3 linked regions of the Homo sapiens genome follow. The protein of the gene in region 2 interacts with the protein of the main gene of each other region in a pairwise test. Each region holds a gene or a part of one and is shown on either strand. Other genes may lie near its edges.

Region 1 (8,696 bases), on a different chromosome or scaffold from region 2:
TATATTGTACATGAAGGTTGGTTTTCAATTTGAACGTCTAGAAAGATACTCATTTCTAATACCTATGCACTGTAGTTTCAGGTTTACTTGCAGACACCCTGGTAGGGTTAAGAGGAGGATATTTCCAAGTTATTTTAAATTGAGTTTACTTTTAACTGGGGTTCTTGACTCTAGTGTAATTGCTCCAACAACTACGTAGAAGTCAAAATGAGTGACTTTAGTGAAGCTTCTGTACTTTACAATACATGACAGTAATGCTATTCCAGAAGTTTTGTTTTGTTTTGTTTTGAGATGGAGTCTCGCTCTGTCTCTCCCAGGCTGGAGTGCAGTGGCACAATCTCGGCTCACTACAGCCTCCACCTCCCGGTTTCAAGCAATTCTCCTGTCTTAGCCTCCTGAGTAGCTGGGACTACAGGCATGCGCCACCACACCTGGCTAATTTTGTATTTTTAGTAGAGATGGGGTTTCACCATGTTGGCCAGGCTGGTCTCAAACTCTTGACCTCAGGTGATCTACCCGCCTCGGCCTCCCAAAGTACTGGGATTACAGGAGGGAGCCACCATACCTGGCCCGCGCCGCCCCTTCCTTTGTTGTTATTGTTGTTTTGAGACAAGGTATCACTCGATCACTGAAGCTGGATACAGTGGCAAGATCATAGCTCACTGTAACCTCAAACTCCTGGGCACAAGGGATCCTCGCATCTCAGCCTCCCAAGTAGCTTGGACCACAGGAAAGTACCACCATGCCCAGCTAATGTTTTTTCATTTTTTGTGCAGACGAGGTTTTGCTATGTTGTCCAGGCTGGTCTCAGACTACTGGCCAGAAGCGATCTTACCTCCTCAGCCTCCCAAAGCACTGGAATTACAGAGTAACATCTAATTTTAATATTCACATTCCTATTTTAATATTCATATTCGATGATGGCACTTAGCAACATCCTCCTATATCCATATTAAAACCTGTTTTCCAAGATTGTGTCTAATATGAAGGTGTAAAATTGCTTTGTTTTCACTCCTTCTTGAATGAATAAATTTGATAGTAACCAATTATAATTTTAGTTTTCTGCTTCTCCTGCCCCAGGGCATGGAAATGCAAGCTGCTTAGGCACCCAAAGTAGGAAAGAAGTGATGGTTCCTCTGTAAAGGGCTCATTAGCTTTAAAAATGGGAAATACCTGTGGTTTTTCTCTTAATTTTTGTGGGTATATAGGAGGTATATATATTTATGGGGTACATGAGATGTTTTGATACAGGCGTGCAACGTGAAATAAGCACATCATGAAGAATGGGGTATCCATCCCTTCAAGCGTGTATCCATTGAGTTGCAAACAATCCAGTTACACTCTTGTTATTCTGAAATGCACAGTTAATGTTGGGGTTGGGTGGTTCACGCTTGTAATCCCAGCACTTTGGGAGGGTGAGGCAGGTGGAGGATCACTTGCGCTCAGGAGTTCGAGACCAGCCTGGCAACATGGTGAAACCCTGTCTTTATTTAAAAAAAAAAAAAAAAGCTGGGTGCGGTGGTGTGCACTTGTGGTCTCAGCTACTCCAGAGGCTGAGGCAGGAGAATGAAGGACTTGAGCCCAGGAGGCGGAGGTTGCCGTGAGCTGAGATGGCACCATTGCAGTCCAGCTTGGGTGACAGGAGTGACCCTGTCTCAAAAGTACGATTAAATTATTATTGACTGTAGTCATCCTGTTGTGCTTTTTTCTTTCTCTTTTTTTAATATAAAGATTTTTTAAATTAAAACAATTTTTTTTTGAGACGGAGTCTCGCTCTGTGGCCCAGGCTGAAGTGCAATGGCATGATCTCGGCTCACTGCAACCTCCACCTCCTGGGTTCAAGCGATTCTCCTGCCTCAGCCTCCCAAGTATCTGGAATTACAGGTGCCCGCCACCACGCCTGGCTAATTTTTGTATTTTTAGTAGAGACAGGGTTTCACCATATTGGCCAGGCTGGTCTCAAACTCCTGATCTCAAGTTATCTGCCTGCCTTGGCCTCCCAAAGTGCTGGGATTACAGGCATTAGCCACCTTGCGGTAGCTCACACCTGTAATCCCAGCACTTTGGGAGGCTGAGGAAGGAGAATTGCTTGAGGCCAGGAGTTCAAGGCCAGCCTGGGCAACATAGGGAGACCTTCTCTTTACAAAAAAATTAGCTGAGCATGCACCTGTAGTCCCAGCTACTTGGGAGGCTGAGGTGGGAGGATCCCTTGAGGCCAGGAGGTTGAGGCTGCAGTGAGCCATGGGATTGTGCCACTCTACTCCAATCTGGACGACAGAGCAAGAGGGGCATCTGAGCCTGTGGAATGGTCTGACTTCAAAGTCAAGATCTGACAAACCATTTCATTCCTTTTACTTAAGAATTACAGATCCATGGATGATACTGCTGATAAAGGTGTGCTTAAACTAATGCACGTAATAGAATTGGCCACATAAAGAGTCCTTTGGGTGGGACATGCAAACTGAATCTTCCTTGGGAAGCAAATGGCACTTAAACACAATGCCTGCCTGCTGTTTTGAGGGAAGATACACCTTAAATGATTATTTTGTTTGCTCATGGCTGGTGAAAGCATCAAGACTGCATGGAAAGGCTTTTGCTGGGATACTCACAAGAAAGAGGAGGTCCAGACCCAAGTGAACCTCCAGGTTTCCTGTCTGCTTCACTTTCCAGTCCCCCTTCCCCCCAGTGAATGTGCATGATTCCGGTGTGGACAGAGGAACTGGCTGCAGGAGCAAAAAAACATTTGCCCTCAATCCATCACTACCCACAAAGAGTTTACAATGTTAACCTCAAAAAAAAAAAAGTGATCAGAACACTGGAACATAGTGTGTAATTAGATACAAATATTTTCTGTTTACTTTTTTAAAACTAGTAATTTAGCTGAAATCAATAATGAAACACAGTGACTCTTCCCCTTGAATCTCCTCCCACCACCAGGTAATCAGTTTGCAGTTCAGTGTTAACTATTCTCCACTTCCCACAAGCACATAAGGCTTTATTTAAGCTTTGGATATTATTTAAAAATCAATCTGCATGTTGCTTTTTCTTTTTCTTTTTCTTTTTTTTTTTTTTTTTGAGATGGAGTCTCACTCTGTTGCCAGGCTGGAGTGCAGTGACGCAACCTCAGCTCGCTGCAACCTCCGCCTCCTGGGTTCAAGCAATTCTCCTGCCTTAGCCTCCCATGTAGCTGGGACTACAGGCGCCCACCACCACACCCAGCTAATTTTTGTATTTTTAGTGGAGACCAGGTTTCACCATGTTGGTCAGGATGGTCTCCAGCTCCTGACCTTGTGATCCGCCTGCCTCGGCCTCCCAAAATGCTGGAATTACAGGCGTGAGCCACCATGTGCCCGGCCTGCATGTTGCTTTTTTGTTGTCGTTTTTGTTTTTTCAGAAGGAGTCTCCTGTCACCAGGCTGGAATGCAGCGGCACAATCTTGACTCGTTGCAACCTCCGCCTCCCAGGTTCAAGCGATTCTTGTGCCTCAGCTTCCCGAGTAGCTGGGATTACAGGTGTGCACCACCACGCCCGGCTAATTTTTGTATTTTCAGTAGAGATGGGGTTTCACCATGTTGCCCAGGCTGGTCTTGAACTTCTGACCTCAGGTGATCCGCCCGCCTCGGCCTCCCAAAGTGCTGGAATTACAGGTGTGAGCCACCGCGCCCTGCCTGCATGTTGCTTTTTAAAAACAATGTATCATCCATCTATGCCAATAACTCCAGATCTGGCTTTCTTTTCTTTTCTTCCTTTCTTTCTTTCCTTCTTTCCTTCCTTCTTTCCTTTCTTCCTTCCTTCCTTCTTTCTCTCTCTCTCTCTTTCCTTGCCTTTCCTTTCTTTTTTGAGAAGGAGTCTCGCTTTTGTCGCCCAGGCTGGAGTGCAGTGGCGCGATCTCGGCTCACTGCAAGCTTCGCCTCCCGGGTTCACGCCATTCTCCTGCCTCAGCCTCCCGAGTAGCTGGGACTACAGGCGCCCGCCACCACGCCCGGCTAATTTTTTGTATTTTTAGTAGAGAGGGGGTTTCACCGTGTTAGCCAGGATGGTCTCGATCTCCTGACCTCGTGATCCGCCCGCCTCGGCCTCTCAAAGTGCTGGGATTACAGGCGTGAGCCACCGCGCCCTGCCTGGATCTGGCATTCTTTCTAATGGTTGCATTATGTTCCGAACTATGGCTGTCCTATGATTTATTCAACCATGTCCCTATCCGTGGATGATCGTGTTTCTAAAAAGCTAGTTTTTCAACCATTAGAGCGGCTCAAGGAGCTGCTAAACAGCACTGGGCGCATAGGCTGGGTTTGACTAGACAGGATTAGCGAGGGGGAAAAAGACTAATTACAAGCAGTTGCGTACTCTGGAGATGCTCCCCTTAGCAGAAGCTCGGTGGACTGTCTGCAGCCAGACCTCCGGGCCTGGCGGCTGGCGCGGGAGGCAGAAGGCGGGGCTTTCCTACAGGGCTCCGTGCCCCGCCCTCCCCGCGCCGCCTTCCACCTCCGGCCGCGCGGGGGCGCTCCCCGGCCGGCTCTGTCGCTTCCGCCGCCGCCCCGCCCACCCGGGCTCACCCCTCGTCCCGATTGGCTGCGCGACGGGAGCGCGCCGAGTCAGGGGGCGGGCCCGCGCCCGCTACAAAGCGGCGAAGGTCACGGCGCGAGGAGGCGCGCGTCGCCGCCCCGCGTCCCGCCTGCGGCCCGCGCCCCCGGCGTCACCGCCTCCTGCCCGCCTGCCCGCCTGCCCGCCTGCCCGCCTACCCGCCTACCCGCCTACCCGCCTACCCCCCTGCCGGCCTGCCGTCCTTCCACGCGGAGAGCCATGGAGGGAGTGAGCGCGCTGCTGGCCCGCTGCCCCACGGCCGGCCTGGCCGGCGGCCTGGGGGTCACGGCGTGCGCCGCGGCCGGCGTGTTGCTCTACCGGATCGCGCGGAGGTGAGTGCATGGTTCGGCCCCACGCGGCCCTCTGCGCCGCCCGCCAGGCCCGCCCCCGCGCCGCCCCGGCCCGCTGCCCCCCTCGGCCGGGACCCGGGCTGCCCGCGGGCGCGCGGAGACCCCCGGCGCGCGCCGCCGCCCCCCGAGACCGGGTTGAGACTGCAGTCGGGAAGCGGCTGCGGAGTCGAGTGGAGCGGCGGGGACTCCGGGAACGTGGGGCGCGGGCGAGAGCGCCGCGCGGGGGCCACAAACTTCCTCCGGGAGCCGCGGGGGGCTGGAGCCGGTGCGCACGGGCCGCCCCTGCCCTCAGCCCCGTGCTGGGCCCCGGTGCACGGCGATGCTGGCGATCGCGGCTGGCGGTTGCTGCTCGGCATGTGACGTCCCGGGCGTTTTTCTACACGCCTCGCATCCGCGCGTTTCAGAGCCACAGCCCCTGCTTACGCTAGAGCAGCTGAGGGACAGGGAGGCTCAGTAACTTGCTGTTAATGAGAGGAATCATGGTTTGAGCCGATGGAATCTGCAGGGCAGACCCCGAGGCTGGGCTGCCTCCCAGAGGTGGGCAAGGCCTGAGATGCCTCCAAACAGTTCAAGACGGGCCGGGGCCACCCTCCTCCCTGCCCGGCTCACGGGCCATGCGGGCCCCCGGGTTCAGATCCGGCCTCTTTCATCGGCCTCCATCGCCAGGCATAAAAGCTTAGTGGCCTGTTGCTTCAGCAGAGCCTCGCAGGTAGCTTACTGTTTCTCCACTTGATCCACCTTTCCAGAGGGCAGGGGGGAAAGTGGGGTTGTGAGAACATCCTAGAAAGAGTGGATGGGTTTGCAGCTTCGGCAAGGGATGCAATGAGCTCACACCCTTAGGAAAAAGGGGAGAAGGGACTTGCCCACTCAGCAGCAAGTGGCAGAGCTGGGGTTTGAACCCTGATCGTCTGGCTGGTCTGTTTGTTCTTCCTTAACACATACCGGTGCTGCTTCTCTCCTCCAGGGGGGAAACGGGGAAAAAGAAGTACAGGTGGTTGAGTCACAGAGGCTTCCCAGAGGAGGAAGGCATGGGAGGGACATCAGCTGTGTCTGGAGGATGGGCCAGATGTGACTGAGGAGGGTAGCTGGGGATTGAGTGACCCCAGCCCAGAGGTCCCTGACAACCCAAGTCTCTCCATGTCGGTTTCTGCTGGATTCCTGGAAGTTGAGCATCTGCAGGACCAGCTTGTCCAAGCCGGTGGTTTTATACCCAGGGGACCGAGGTCCAGAGACCTCAGGTGATTTGCTCACATTCCCAGAGCATGTTGCCAGCTGAGCTGGTCCAGCACCCGGTGTTCTTCCTGGACGAAGCCGCCTCTCAGCTAACCCAGGATGGGGGGTGTTGCCTCAAGGATGAGAGCCTGGGGGAGGGGATAGTCTGCCAGCCACACAGCACCTCCGTTGTGTTTATTGAGGCTGGACTTGGACTGGGTGGCTCACTGTGCCACACACTGCAGCTGTCCTCAGGGATGCTGTCTCCCCTTCCTGCCCTGCTGGCCACAGCTCTCCATCTCCTGGAAACAAGAGTCTGGGGCCTTGGAGAGATATTGGGCTAGCTGGTGCCAGGGGAACTAGGAGGGTGCCTGGAAGTCCTTTCACGCCCCTGACGACACCAGCAGGTCACGGTGTGGCATTGAGACCCTTGCTGTTGATTGGGCCGAGAAGGGCCAGCCTTTCCCAGGATGCTTTAAGATGTCCTCATAGAGCACTGGGTTTCACCTGGAGGTCATAAATTGGCCACTGTCACGATTCAGAAGCCAGACCAACCTAGCAAGAGGTTGAGCCTTCCTCCGAGGAGGAGAGTGCTGTGACAGTGAGGAACCAAGCATTGACTCTGGCTGCAGTGTAGGTTTTGAATGACCCTCGGGAGGGCATGTAAGGAGAGCTGTTTTTGGAAGGCGACTTGGCTGGGTGGGTGTTTGCAGGCTCAGCACAGAGATGGACAGAGAGGAAGATGTAGAGGGAGTGGGCAGGTCAGCCCCACCTTGTGCTTTAGGACTGGCTGAGGCGCATGGGAAGGAGGCTGCTTCTCTGAAGGACTGAGTCCTCCCACAGCCTCAGTCAGGGCCCGCCCTGGCTTCCCCACGCATGGAGTCCTCTCGCTTCCATGGTTGTTACTGATGGGAGCAGCTGATGGCTGTAAGCACAGCACACTGTCTCCTCATGAAACTGCCAGGGCGGGCTCTACTGTTCTCCCATTTTACAGATGAGGAAACCAAAGCTTGGGGAGGTTGGGCTACCTGCCCCACATCACCCGGCTGTTAAATGGCAGGGCCCTGCCTCGCACCAGAACTTCAGCTTGTCAGCCCAGCTTCAACCTCTGGGTGCTCATGGAGCCCCTTGGCTGCTTCTCTGCACCTATGGGAAGCCACCACGGTCGGCACAGTTGGGGGGCAGATGCCCCAGTTTCACTTCCCTGTGTCCAGGCCGTCGTGAAGTCTGTGGCTTCCTAGGCCTCCCTGTCCCCTGGACGCTGCTGCTCGGGTGCCTGTCCTCAGCCCTCTTCAAACGATGCCCAGGATCCGTGCTCTGCCAGCACATCCCTGCACACACCACCGCCCCGCCTCCGGGGCTTTGTTGGTGTTTACTGGGATTGTCTCCTTTCTAGTGTTTGGGGACAAAGAGGATGCAGCCTCCCAGAGGATATGCAGCAGAGCCTCATTCTGGAAGTCAGAGTCCCCTGTAACGGCCCTTCCCGTTTCCAGGCTCCCCCCTCCCACTCACTCTCCTGCTGCTGCGCACTCTCCCTGAGCAACCGCCGCACCCCGGGCATACGTTGGGTGGTCCCCTCCCTCTGCCGTCTGCCCTGCTGGTGAGCACAGCTGTGCTTCAGGGCGACCGCAGATGCCCCGCTTATTGGCCTCTGTCCTGTGGTATCTGTCACCAGCTGCCCTGGGAGGTCGTCGTTCTTGTCTTGCTCACGTTTGCATCTCTGCCAGCCTAGGGTGGTGCTTGCTTAACTGATGGGATGTTCCGCTCGCACCAGGAGCGACCCTAGAATGGTGGATTGGGGCGTTTTCCATCCTGATGTTGGAGTTGCTGCTGTGGATTCAAGTATGTTTTGCTTGGAGATGGGCTGGAGGCCCTGGCAGTGCTAAGTTCTGAGTTGCATTTTGATGCTTCTGTCGCTGAAGCCCAGGAGGCCTCTTCTCTGGTCCTTCTGGTTGAATGAAACACGGTGTTGCCCACTTAAGCGGGAAGTGCAGGTGAGGAGCTGCTTGGGAGGCTGGCCTCTGGCTCCCTGGCCCCTGAGGGAACCTGACTCTTACAGTCTTTCCAACCCCGCACTGGGGCCAGCACACAGTGTCCCAGGTCCTGAGCAATGTGCTAAGGCCCCTGTCTGAGGAGGTGATGATTTCCCAGGGCTGGGCAGAGACTCTGGGAGCTGGCCAGCCTGCTACAACCACTGAGCTCCCCAGGGCAGGGACCAAGCCCCATCCAGTGCCCCCTCTAGCAGGTTCCCCCTACCTGGTGCTTTCCTAGGCTGAGGACCCAGCGCTGGGCTCGCACCTAGAACAGAGCCCCTCCCACCTGCAGGGAATAGTGAGGCATCCCGCAGGAGCTTTGTTTCAATACATGTCCGTGCTCAGGGCTCTGGAGTGGTGTCATCATTAAGGACACGTGCCCGTCTTGTTTTCCCTCAGTGTGTATGTTGGGCTTGTGGACGGGGCAGGTACAGAGCATGCAGCTGCCCTAGCTTTTTCTTAGGGACCCATCTCCCTCCGGGCTTCCTCAGGCTTCCCAGGGGCTCGGCATCGAGCT
Region 2 (5,193 bases):
GGCAGTGACAATGGGTCAGGAGTTCAATGAACTGCTCAGTGAGTAAGTGGCCAACCGCCATTTTGTGTGAGCCTTTTGGGTCAGCAGACACTAACCCAAAGGCACTGGCTTGAGATGCTGGAGTCAGAACTATAGGTCCGTAAGCTTCCTCACATCTGAATGCTAATCACTGAATTCCTTTTCTTGCCTGTAGTCTAGAGCCTGTACTTCTAAGGACTGCTGAATAAGGCATGAGGCCACCATAGCTAAGGGCCAATTCTGCTTGACTTCTATTGTATTCCTGCAATTAAGAGAACTCCCCTACCCCTTTTGTTTCATTCCAAGTAACACCTTTTGGTTTAACTGTTAGGTATGGAGTTGTTAGCTTTGCGCCAAACCTAAGCAGAAGACCTGTCAAGGCTACGCTGGGCAGAGGGGAGGATAGAAGTGGAATCATGACCAGCCTGACCAACACGGAGGAACCCAACCTCTACTGAAAATACAAAAAATTAGCTGGATGTGGTGGTGCATGCCTGTAATTCCAGCTACTCAGGAAGCTGAGGCAGGAGAATTGCTTGAACCCAGGAGGAGGAGGTTGCGGTGAGCCGTGATCGTGCCATTGCACTCCAGCCTGGGCAACAAGAGCAAAACTCCATCATCATCTCAAAAAAAAAAAAGTGGAATCGTGAGATTCCTCCAAGGTGCGTGAACAGATAGAGAAGTTTAATGGCAAGTGTCACAGAGTTGAGTCTCATGCAGCTCTCTCTGGCGTGGGAAGGCACCCTTTTCTGGCCAGTGATGATAACATATTAATTTCTAGCACTCTGAAATCCATGCTCCTATCTGTCAGTCAGAATACCCCTCTTCTATTATTTTTTCTGTGCTTTTCTATTTCTCTGGTTAACTTAATATCATGAATTAGATCAAGGTTTATTTTATGTTTGAGCATATTTTCAGTGCTAGTATTCCTGCTTTGGGCCTGGATGACTTCTGCAAAGGGTTAATCTAATCTATTACCTGGGATTTTTTTTTTTAATACTATCACCATTATATGTTGACCTCATTTCATGGTCCTAGAGGGAATCCTTTTATAGTTTCCAACAACCTGACTATACAACTTTACTTTAAATAAAACTGAATGATTGCAAAAAATTTTACCCCAGAGTATTTTTATTAGGGATTCCTGCCACCATATTAACATATAAAACAATCTGGATGTTGACATAGAAATGCAAATTTCACTATACAAAGGTAAGGCTCCAATCACAGTAACATGGCCCCCATATCTCTAGTATTTCAATGAAATAAACTCATTGTGAATTCACCCCGAGTTGTGTTTATAAATATTAGACAAACCACAAAATATATTCCAAATACATAACATTTTACAATATTTTTCAAGCACAGACAAATACATACTTTACTTTACCTACATTGTTTTCATGATCCAACTTGCATTAGCACTAAAGGCAATATTGTGTGTGTATATGTATTTGCCATATGTGTGTGTGTATTATATATATTTATTTATATCCACAAATGTACACTCAGTGGCATTTATGGAAAATTTAACCCTTTCAGGCTGTGGGTTTTACCCACCATAGTATCTGAGAGGGAGAAGAACCAATAATACATCTCAAATTCCTCAATTAGGGCAAAATAAGCACAATTATGCATGAGGGGCATATATGTTGTGTCTATTCAAAGACACACATATATACAGATTCATATATAAACACACATATACCAATAATATGGAATATACATATACTCACACACTTGCTTTAAACTCTATATCTCACTCTATAATATACTGTCCATCTCTGGAAGCAGGCTTTTCCTCATTCGATTCAGGCAACTGGTGACTATCTTCTAACAAAACTTAAATGGATGTTTCTAAAAGGCTCTGATTCTATGCCGAGCAAATGGCATTTCAAGATTCCAGTTTAACTTTTGATGGCTGTTTAAATTCAGCAGACCCTATTCTGTCAACTTCTTCACTTAAAAACATTTCTATTCAACAATGAAGTTTCCACCTAAGAGAAAAGAGATGTTAGCTGGAAATGTTAAAATAATATATTTATTACTCCTTAAGATAAATCTGCATCGTTGGATTACATGTGATATTTATACTATCATATTTTTTAAGTATTTTACAATGGAAAATATATTAGTTCCATAATTTAAAAAATATTATATAATATTATTTTGAAAGACTGAGGGCCAGATGATTTGTCATAGTCAGAACTTTAGAGAAAATTATATGACGCATGATCAGAAGGGGACTAATTTTGTGCAGACTACACTAAAGTTGCCTTATGTCAGAAAGGATGACTTAGAAGTCGTATGAGAAAAGAAGGAGAAAAACACAAATTTCAATTTCAAACCTAGCCATCTGCAAGCTTCCAAAATAAATTGTTGAGGATTCCAATCACAGAAAATATATTCCTAAATCAGTATCAACTTTCAGGTAATAAACAAACAATCTTTATTTAAAAAGCAAAATAAATCACTGAAAGCATATAGGAAAGGAAACCCCTCAAACTTAATGGCAAATATATAGTCATTTGCTCGACTGCAGGCTTCACGAACTGAGTTTCAAAACTCATTTCCAAAATTAAATGTCCAGTGAAGTACTCAGAGCTCCACTGAGTGAGTGGAAATGTATTGCCCAATTTAGAAATCATGCTAATGATAGGGTTGGAATGTCATTAGCTAGAGAGAGCGATTCCAAGTGGGCCCTGTAACTTTGTACATTAGGGCAGTGGAATGTTTTCAATCCACAGAGAAGCTCTATGCTCCATGGCATAAGTTCTAGACTCTTATCTTTCTCCCACATAACACAGTATCAGCAGGTAGTCTGCATGGGAAGGCATCAGTACGTTGCTGATGGTACAATGCTCTAGTACCTTCCTTGATACCATTAAATTGTTGGATTAAATCCTTTCCATCATGGATTTAATGGTATCAAGGAAGGTACTAGAGCACTGGTCCCCTCTACAGTCTGGTTAGGGTCATGTCACTACTTTACCCAGGCTGAACTGGTATGTCATCTCATGAGGCCTCTCCAGTTTCTCTATGGAAGTCAAATTTTAAAACAACTGGGAAAGGAAAGGAGTATAATGACCACCGCAAAACATGATCATGGACATGTATCAAAAAGCCATTCATATTCTCTCTCTCTCTCTCTCTCTCTCTCTCACACACACACACACGCACACTCACATACAAACACATTTTTGAAGTTTCTTCTACAGAATCACAACAAATGGCATGAGGGATCAAAATATTTACCTTAAAGTTTCTCCACTTTTATTTAGATCCACTTAAACATGTTCATGTTAACTCAGACAGCGACTGCACTGCTCTTCACATCATCGAACGCTGGCATCACCATCACTTTCATAAAATAGACCATTCGCCTGTCACCATTTGCCTGCCAGCCTCACCAGAACTCATTTTTGCCACTTTCCATTTCTCCAGTTCCTATCTGCCTTCACTCTTGGGTTAATGTACATTGATATGCAACTGACTAGCACATCTGTTACCTTTTTTCCTTTAAACTCTCACTTTCTTTTTAAAACATCTGCTTCTCCAGCCAAAATATACGGACAGAATACAAATGAAAATAACAAGTCCTCTTGTCCAAATACTTTGAAAAATGGACCACCCTGAGTCCACTTGATGCTCTCAGTTTCTACATCCTCCAGTTCCATCCTCTGTTTTAGCAGCTTACTTACTATAGTGTCTTTCTACCCATTTTCTATCTCCTATGCAGATCATAACAAATTATGGTATTGTTCAGCCAAAAATATTTTTAAAAACAAAGTAGCGCCAAAACATTAAAAAAATTCTGATATACCTTTTGTGCATTAGTCTTACAATCTGTACATGTAAATAACTCCAGGAGGCTTCTTTTTTTTTTTTGCTAAAAATTTACCAAAATAGTTTGAACACATAAAAATATTTTTAAAAAAACAGAACCAAAAACCCAGCATAAATTTAGTTGTATAGGCATTGGTTAGAGGACACTGTTTTCACTAAGGATTATATTCAACAACTTTCTCTTGAGTTGTTACTAAAATTCTGATTCTGAACCTTATAGCTTATAATGGTGCCAACTATTAGAAATGGGAAAATCTAATTCAGTCCAATGTAACATGTATTATGATATAATAGATGAAGGGTATGTCTACACTATAATAAAAAATAAACATATTTTTGGTTATTTAAAGACCATCTTCCTAACCTGTAACTAAAATAACTGTATTTGATTTAAACTTATTTAAGTGCAGTGAATTATGGAAAGCTAACTTAAAGGTTTGAATAATCAATTATGAGTAAGGAACACCTGTTGACAGCCCCGTGACCCTTCAGAACCAGGCATTTGCTGAAAAAAAGAAATCACTAGCATTGAATATAGCCCTTAGTCACGTGAGAGATTAACTTCATGAGCAACCCAGCATGTAGAGGATGAGGTGGACTTTCCCAGCCACCCACTCCTTGAGGGGACAGTAGTATTCATAGTGAAACTGCTCAAACTCTGGTGTCTGGCGGATTTCGCATAAGAAGGAGAGATCAATACCTGACTCCAAAAGGAGGAGGAGCAGGGGAAATACAAAGAGCAGCAGTCCCAGGCCCACCACAAGGAGCCTGGAAAAACTCTTGACCAGTGGGTTCACCCGAATATGGCCAGTCAGAATGTCATAGCTCCACGACAAAGCACGGCGAGCCTCCTTCAGCTCCTCTTCTTCAGCAATCAAAAAGGCGTTTTCATCTGCTTCCAGATCCTCAAATGAATCTGTGTCTTCTCTTTCCAACTCAAGCCTAGAAGGACAGTCAAAGAGCATGTCAATCTCATCGTCATCCACAGGGGTGGGGAGCAGGCTGGCACTTGGGTTGTACACTAGTTCAGAGATGGTTAAAGGTTCTTCTTTTATTTTATCTTCCTCTTCACTAGGGGGATCTTCATACTCCCGGGCTGCCTTCACTGGGGAGCTGGAGATCAAGGGAGCAGAAATGTTCTCCTCTTTAGGCAATGGAACACCTGTAAAGAGACATTTTTTTTTCTAAATTTAAAATTTCAGATTTTCCCACAAAAATCTGCAGGAAGAAACAGAAAAACAAAAAACTAATGGGATTCAAGCAATCTATGAAATTATTCTGTGGTATCCTAAGTTGTAACAAAGTCGTATTATAGTAAAAGACCCTGTA
Region 3 (7,913 bases), on a different chromosome or scaffold from region 2:
GCAGATCACCTGAGTTCAGGAGTTCGAGACCAGTCTGGCCAACACGGCGAAACCTCGTCTCTACTAAAAATACAAAAATAAGCCAGGCTTGGTGGCACCTGTGATCTCAGCTACTTGGGAGGCTAAGGTAGGAGAATCGCTTAAACCTGGGAGGTGGAGGCTGCAGTGAGGTGAGATGGTGCTGCTGCACTCCAGCCTGGGTGACAGAGTGAGACTCCATCTCAAAAAAAGAAAAAAAAAATCATGTTTTTCATTTGTGGTTTTATTTCCCTCCATTTTTTTTCTTGATTGATTCAGAATAGATGGTGAGCTTGGAGGGAACACTCAGCCCTTACAGAGAGCATTAATTCAGTCTCAAGTAATAGTTGCTAACCTGTTTCTTTCTTTTTTTTTTTCCTCTGTGAAGATTCCAGAAGTAACTAACCTGTTTCAACCACATGCTGATATAGCCAGAGACATCACTAATGTGCCAAGGTTTCTCTTGGAGCTTGAGCTGCAGCTCTTTACCTGCAGTTTTGTTTTTTTTGTTTTGTTTTTTGAGACAAGGTCTTACTTTCACCCAGGCTGGAGTGCAGCTCACTGCAGCCTCAGTCTCCTGGGGTCAAGTGATCCTTCTATTTCAACCTCCCGAATAGCTGGGAAAAGGTGTGCACCACGACGCCTGGCTAATTTTTAAAATTTTTTGTAGAATTGGGGTCCCACTGGCTGGGTGTGGGCTCATACCTGTAATCCCAGCACTTTGCGAGGCGAAGGTGGGCAGATCATGAGGTAAGGAGTTCCAGACCAGCCTGACCAAAATGGTGAAACCTCGTCTCTACTAAAAATACAAAAAAATTAGCTGGGCGTGGTGGCACACACCCGTAATCCCAGCTACTCAGGAGGCTGAGGCAGGAGAATCGCTTGAACCCGGGAGGTGGAGGTTGCAGTGAGCCAAGATGGTGCCGTTGCACTCCAGCCTGGGCGACAGTCAGACTCTGTCTCAAAAAAAAAAAAAAAAAGAATTGGGGTCCCACTATTGCCCAGTGTGGTCTGGAACTCCTGGGCTCAAGGGATCCTCCTGCCTGGGCCTCCCAAAGTGCTGAGATTACAGGTGTGAGCCACTGTGCTCAGCCTAATTAGCTATTCTTATTTATTCTGTTTTCTTGTTCATTCCAAGCCTATTCATTCATTCACTTATTCAAATATTTATTAAGCCTTTACTATGTTCTAGACACTGTTCTAGGTGCTGGGGATTTAGTAGTGAATAAACAGCTATGCCCTCATGGAGATTACATGGCACAGGAGGCAGACGATAAGCAGAGTAAATAACTAAAATATATACTACATTAGGTAGTGGTAAGTGCTAAGAAGAAAAATAATACAGGGGGCTGGACACGGTGGCTTAGGCCTGTAATCCCAGCACTTTGGGAGGCCGAGGCGGATGGATCATGAGGTCGGGATTGAGACCATCCTGGCCAACATGGTGAAACCCCATCTCTACTAAAAATACAAAAATTAGCTGGGCATGGTGGCATGTGCCTGTACTCTCATCTACTTGGGAGGCTGAGGCAGGAGAATCACTTGAACCCAGAAGTTGGAGGTTGCAGCGATCCAAGATTGTGGCACTGAACTCCAGTCTGGTGATAGAGTGAGACTCCGTCACAAATGAAAAAAAAAAGAAAAATAATACAGGGAAGAGGACTGTGGAATATTTATGTGGTGTGAGGAGGAGGGTTTGAAATTTTAGCGATGGTGCCGAGATAACTTTATGAAGATGACTAAGTAAAGGCCAGGAGCAAAGTAAAGGAGCTAGCCATGAGGGTATCTGTAGGAAGAGCATAGAGCATTCCTGGCAGAGGAAACAAGTTCAAAGGCCTTGAGATGGGAGGATGTCTGGTATGTTTGAGGAACAGTCAGGGAGGCCACAGTGGTTGAATAGTTGCACATGAGATCAGAATGATCAGGGGAGGACAAATCATGTACAACTTCACAGGTTTTAGGAAGGACTTTGGCTTTTATTCTGAGATGGGAAATCATTGGAGCAGAAGAGTGACATGATGTGACTTAATGGCGTAATAGGATCGTTCTGACTACATTGTTGTGAAAGACTGAAGGAAGAGTGTGTCTGGAGTTGGTTCCTTCCGGTGGGTTTTTGGTCTCTCTGACTTGAAGAATGAAGCCATAGACCTTCGCGGTGAGTGTTATAGCTCTTAAAGGTGGCACAGACCCAAAGAGTGAGTAGCAGCAAGATTTATTGTGAAGAGTGAAAGAACAAAGTTTCCACAGTGTGGAAAGGGACCAGAGCAGGTTGATGCTGCTGGCTGGGGTGGCCAGCTTTTATTCCCTTATTTGTCCCCGCCCACATCCTGCTGATTGGTCCATTTTACAGAGTGCCGATTGGTCCATTTTTACAGAGTGCTGATTGGTGCATTTACAATCCTTTAGCTAGACACAGAGTGCTGATTGGTGCATTTTTACAGCATACTGATTGGTGCATTTACAATCCTCTAGCTAGACACAAAAGTTTGCCAAGTCCCCACTCCACCCAGGAAGTCCAGCTGGCTTTGCCTTCTTAAGAGGACAAGGGCAGAATTGAGGAGACCAGTTAGGAGGCTGTTTTAGTAATTAGGCAAGAGATAGTGGGTTGTACCAGAACAAGTGTCAGATTTTGGATGTGTTGTGATGGAAGAGCCAATAGGATTTAATGATGCGCCAGATTTGGGGAATGAAAGAAAAATGAGTCAAGGATAACACCAAAGTTTTTGGCTTATGAGTCTTCAAGAGTTGGGTTGCTATTAGATGAGAGAGGGAAGATTTACATTGGTATTCATCCTTCTCTTTCCAATCTGATGTCACTTTGGGGCCCCTCCTTTAGCAAGAGGTTCCTAATCTTAAGTGTCCTGTGTCTGTAGCTTACCATTTTTTTGATTAATGACTGGTTAGAGTATGATACTGGAGTTTGAATGTGGTAGTTTAGAATTAGTAATATAATTGAATTGTCTTTCCCTGGCAGATTAATTTTGCATTGTTTGAATCAGTGCATTCATGAGTTGTTGAAATCATGAATGAAAGTAGTACATGTCATTATCTTTCCACCATTTAGTAGTTTAGAAAAATCACATAAAAATGATTGTAATATCTTATGACATTGATAGAAAATATCAAAGTGCATCTCTCTTATCAAGGGTAAAATTTTGTGAAACTTTGTTCAGTTATATATAATGTATTTTTTTTTCTTTTTTTTGGAGACAGTCTGGCTCTGTTGTCCAGGCTTGAGTGCAGTGGTGCCATCTTGGCTCACTGCAGCCTCTGCCTCCTGGGCTCAAACAATCCTCCGCCTCAGCCTCCCAGGTAGCTGGGACTACAGGTATGTACTACCACACCCTGCTAATTTTTTTGGTATTTTTTTTGTAGAGATGGGGTTTCATCATGTTGCCCAGGCTGGCCTCAAACTCCGGGCTCAAGTGATCCTTCCGCCTTGGCCTCCCAAAATGTTGGGATTACAGGCATGAGCCACTGTGCCTGGCCTATAATATCTCATGTATATGGTGTTTATTGGATTGCAGTGTAAAATTATTTCCTTACTGGGTATTACAAGTGAAAATTTGGAAGCCATTGACTTGTGTATAAATAGTCATTTGTCAAAAGAGTAACTTGAAATAACATTGTGATATTTTAAAACTTTTTTTTTTTTTTTTTGAGACAGAGTTTCACTCTTGTCGCCCAGGCTGCAGTGCAATGGCATGGTCTCAGCTCACTGCAACCTCTGCCTCCCAGGTTCAAGTGATTCTCCTGCTTCAGCCTCCTGAGTAGCTGGGATTACAGGTGAATGCCACCATGCCCGGCTAATTTTTCTATTTTAGTAGAGATGGGGTTTTGCCATGTTGGCCAGGCTGGGCTTGAACTCCTGACCTCCGGTGATTCACCCGCCTCGGCCTCCCAAAGTGCTGGGATTACAGGTGTGAGCCACCATGCCCAGCCCTATTTTAAAGCTTTATATGTGTATTTATTTATTTATTTATTTTGAGATGGAGTCTTGTTTTGTCGCCCAGGCTGGAGTGCAGTAGCATTACCTTGGCTCACTGCAACCTCTGCCTCCTGGGTTCAAGCGATTTTCCTGCCTCAGCCTCTGGAGTAGCTGGCACTACAGGTCCCTCCCACCACACCTGGCTAGTTTTTATGAGATGGGGTTTCACCATGTTAGGTAGGCTGGTCTCGAACTCCTGACCTCAAGTGATCTGCCCACCTTGGCCTCCCAAAGTGCTGGGATTACAGGTGTGAGCCACGGCACCGGCCTATATGTGTTTTTAGAAACTGTCACCATAAATGAGAATATTACTTTAGGAACCATCTCATAAATGGGATAACATTTTATTAACCCAACAAATATTTGTTAAGTTCTATATAGTAGTAGGCCCTGGTGGTGTATAAAAATAAACATAAACATGGAACCCCAGCCTGGGCGACAGAGTGAGATTCTGTCTTAAAAACAAAACAAAGCTGGGTGCAGTGGCTCACGCCTGTAATCCCAGCACTTTGGGAAGCCAAGGTGGACAGATCACTTGAGCTCAGGAGTTTGAGACCAGCCTAGGCAACATGGCAAAACCCCATCTCTACAAAAAATACGAAAATTAGACGAGCATGGTGGCATGAGCCTGTAGTCCCAGCTCCTCAGGAGGCAGGGGTGGGAGAAGGGCTTGAGGCCAGGACATCGAGGCTGCAGTGAGCCGAGATAGCACTACTGCACTCCAGCCTGGGTGACAGCGAGACCCTGTCTCCAAACAAACAAAACGAAAATATCCCATGATACTGCCTTCTTGAAGCTACCATTCTAGAGGAGTCAAAACAAAAACAGACAGATGAAATAATTTTAAATTATGGCACTTTTATGAAGAAAACAAATGAGTTGAGAAAGAAAAATCAGGAAAGATTTAATTTAATAAGAGTGATCTGGGAAAGCCTCTGTGAGAAGATAACATTTAATTGAGCTGATGGTCATGAACCTGATTTGGAAAGAATACAGAAAAGAGCATTCCAGCAGCATTTGAAGTCAAGCAAGAGTTTGGCACATTAGTGGGACTGAAAGAAGCTGTGTCTATAGTGAATGAAGGACAAGAATGGCCAGAGAGCTAGGCGGGACCCAGGACATGCAAGGTCTGGTAGGTAGTTTGGATTTGATCCAAAAGGTAATAGAAAACCACTGACATGTTTGAAGATGAGGGATGACATTGAAGCAATTTACAGACAGTCCCTGACTTACTAGGGCTTGACTTAAAATTTTTTGACTTTACCATGGTGTGAAAGTGATATGTGAGTACTCATACAAGCATTCTGTTTTTCACTTTCAGTATGGTATTCAATAAATTACATGAAATAGTCAGCACTTTATTGTAAGATAGGCTTCATGTTAGATGATTTTGCCCAACTGTAGGCTAACGTAAATGTTCTGAACACATTTAAGTTAGGGTAGGCTAAACTCTTTCAATCCCAATAATTTGTTTGAATACTACATCTTCCGTGCATATACTTATATGTGCAAACATGTATATACTTATATATACAAATATGTACAAATATATACAGAAATAGAGTCATAGTATTCTATTAGTTGATTTGCCCTCGTAGTCGTCATAGTATTTATTGAGTGCTTATTATTCTAAGTGCTTTACATGTAATTTCTCTTTTAAGCCTCCCAACAACCTGTTTTAGAGGTGAGAAAACAGGAGCAGAGGAGTAACTTTCACAGAGTCATAAAGTTAGGTGGCACAGGTGAGATTTGAAATCAAGCACTGTGACCCTATAGCCTGTACTCCTTTTTTTTTTGAGACAGAGTCTCGTTCTATCACCCAGGCTGGAGTGCAATGGCGCGATCTCAGCCCACTGCAACTTCCACCTCCCGGGTTCAAGCGATTCTCCCTGCCTCAGCCTCCTGAGTAGCTGGGATTACAGGCACCTGCCACCACATCTGGCTAATTTTTGTAGTTTTAATAGAGACGGGGTTTTGCCGTGTTGGCCGGGCTGGTCTCAAACTACTGACCTCAGGTGATCCGCCTGCCTCAGCCTCCCAAAGTGCTGGGATTACAGGCCTGAGCCACCATGCCCGGCCTGTGGCCTGTACTCTTAACCGTACCCTAGGATCTGCCTCAATGTTTTTCATGGCTGCAGAGTATGGAATTAGGTCTGTTTTATAGCTTTGTTCACATTTTAAATATAATTTGGAAGGATTGGGAATGTGGTATAGGGAAGTTAGAACAGATACCCCTTTCCTGGAACCTAGGTAATTTTTTTCATTTTTTAAGTAGGTCAAACAGGTATATAGTAAAAAGCCACCTTCCCCTCTGCCCAGTTTCACTGCCTCCTAAAGTTAACTCCCATTGTTTGTGTATCCCTCTAGTTTCTTTTTGCCTGTACAAGCCAAAGTGAATGTAGTTTCTCTTTTTTTACACAAAAGATAACATACTATGCACACTCATCTGTGTCTTGCCTTTTTCACTTAACTGTGTATCTCAGGGATCTTTCCATAGCAATAACTGGCATCCCTCCTCCTCCTTCACCACAGCTGCATAGGATTTATTATATGGATCATTATTTAAGCAGTATCCTATTGATAAACATTTGGGTTTTTCAATATTTTGCTGTCACATTTTTTTCTCTAAATCAACTTAATTGAAATCAAATGTAGGGACAATAAAATGTACAGATTTTGAATGTAGAGTTCAGTGAGTTTTGACAAATGTCTCATCTGTATAATCACCATCACAATCAATATACGGTCATGGGTCACTTCACAATGAGGGTGCATTCTGAGAACTGCATCATTAGTTGATTTTACCCCTTCACAAACATCATAGAGTATATTTACACAAACCTAGGTAGTATAGCCTGCTACACACCTTAGCTGTACGGTATAGTCTCTTGTTCCTAGGCTATAAACCTGTACAAACCTGTAGGCAGTTGTGACACAGTAACAAGTATTTGTGCATCTAAACATAGAAAAGGTGCAATAAAAATATGGTATTATAATCTTATGGGACCACCATCATATATATGGTCCATTGTTGACCATATTATGTGGCACATAACTGTAGAACATTTCTACCAGTGTTGTCCCCATACACACTCATTTTATTTCTAACACTATAGTACGTACTCTTCTGTCTAGCTTCTTTTGCTCAGTATATCTGTGAGATTCATCTATTTTTTCTGTGTTATCAGTGATTTGTAACTTATGATTTCATTGTGTGAACATACCAAAATTTGTTTATCCATTCACTTGTTGATTGACATTTGGGTTGTCTCCAGTTTGGGGCTGTTATGAATAAAACTGCTAGGAACTGTCATGTACAAATCTTTGTGTGGACATATGATTTTATTCCTCCTGGGCAAATACCTAGTAGTAAAATTGCTAGGAGTGAGATTACTAGGTTATATGTCTGTTTAACTTTTTAAGCAACTGCCAGAGCATTTTCCAAAGTGTTTATATAATTTTATACTCCCACCACAATGTAGGTTTTCCAGTTTCTTCACATCTTCATTGATACATTGTATTTGTCAGTTATTTTACTTTTAACCATTCTAATGGGTGTGTGGTTGGCCAGGTGCTGTGGCTCACGCCTGTAATCCCAGCCCTTTGGGAGGCTGAGGTGGGCAGATCACGAGGTCAGCAGATCGAGACCAGCCTGGCCAACATAGTGAAACCCCATCTCTTCTAAAAATACAAAGTTAGCCACGTGTGGTGGCAGGTGCCTGTAGTCCCAGCTACTTGGGAGGCTGAGGCAGGAGAATCGCTTGAACCCGGGAGGTGGAGGTTGCAGTGAGCTGAGATCGCGCCACTGCACTCCAACCTGGGTGACAGAGCAAGACTTCATCTCAAAAAAAAAAAAAAAAAAATCATTGTAATGGGTGTGTAATGGTATATAATTGTGGTTTTAACT

What was found.
Region 1: the proteins of FRMD3 (region 2) and TMEM201 interact in binary tests that used the Homo sapiens proteins (3 or more experiments, as listed by UniProt).
Region 3: the proteins of FRMD3 (region 2) and CYB5B interact in binary tests that used the Homo sapiens proteins (3 or more experiments, as listed by UniProt).

What each region holds. Positions count from the first base shown.
Region 1 is NC_000001.11:9,584,128-9,592,823, forward strand, and holds the start of TMEM201 (transmembrane protein 201), read left to right. Parts: upstream 1-4,783; 5' UTR 4,784-4,803; coding exon 4,804-4,916; intron 4,917-5,228; exon of another isoform or gene 5,229-5,471; intron 5,472-5,479; exon of another isoform or gene 5,480-5,643; intron 5,644-8,696. UniProt on the Homo sapiens protein: Critical regulator of angiogenesis and endothelial cell (EC) migration. Promotes the migration of endothelial cells, which is essential for angiogenesis.
Region 2 is NC_000009.12:83,243,491-83,248,683, forward strand, and holds the end of FRMD3 (FERM domain-containing protein 3), read right to left. Parts: intron 5,027-5,193; coding exon 4,428-5,026; 3' UTR 1,132-4,427; downstream 1-1,131. UniProt on the Homo sapiens protein: Putative tumor suppressor gene that may be implicated in the origin and progression of lung cancer.
Region 3 is NC_000016.10:69,427,013-69,434,925, forward strand, and holds part of CYB5B (cytochrome b5 type B), read left to right. Parts: intron 1-7,913. UniProt on the Homo sapiens protein: Cytochrome b5 is a membrane-bound hemoprotein functioning as an electron carrier for several membrane-bound oxygenases.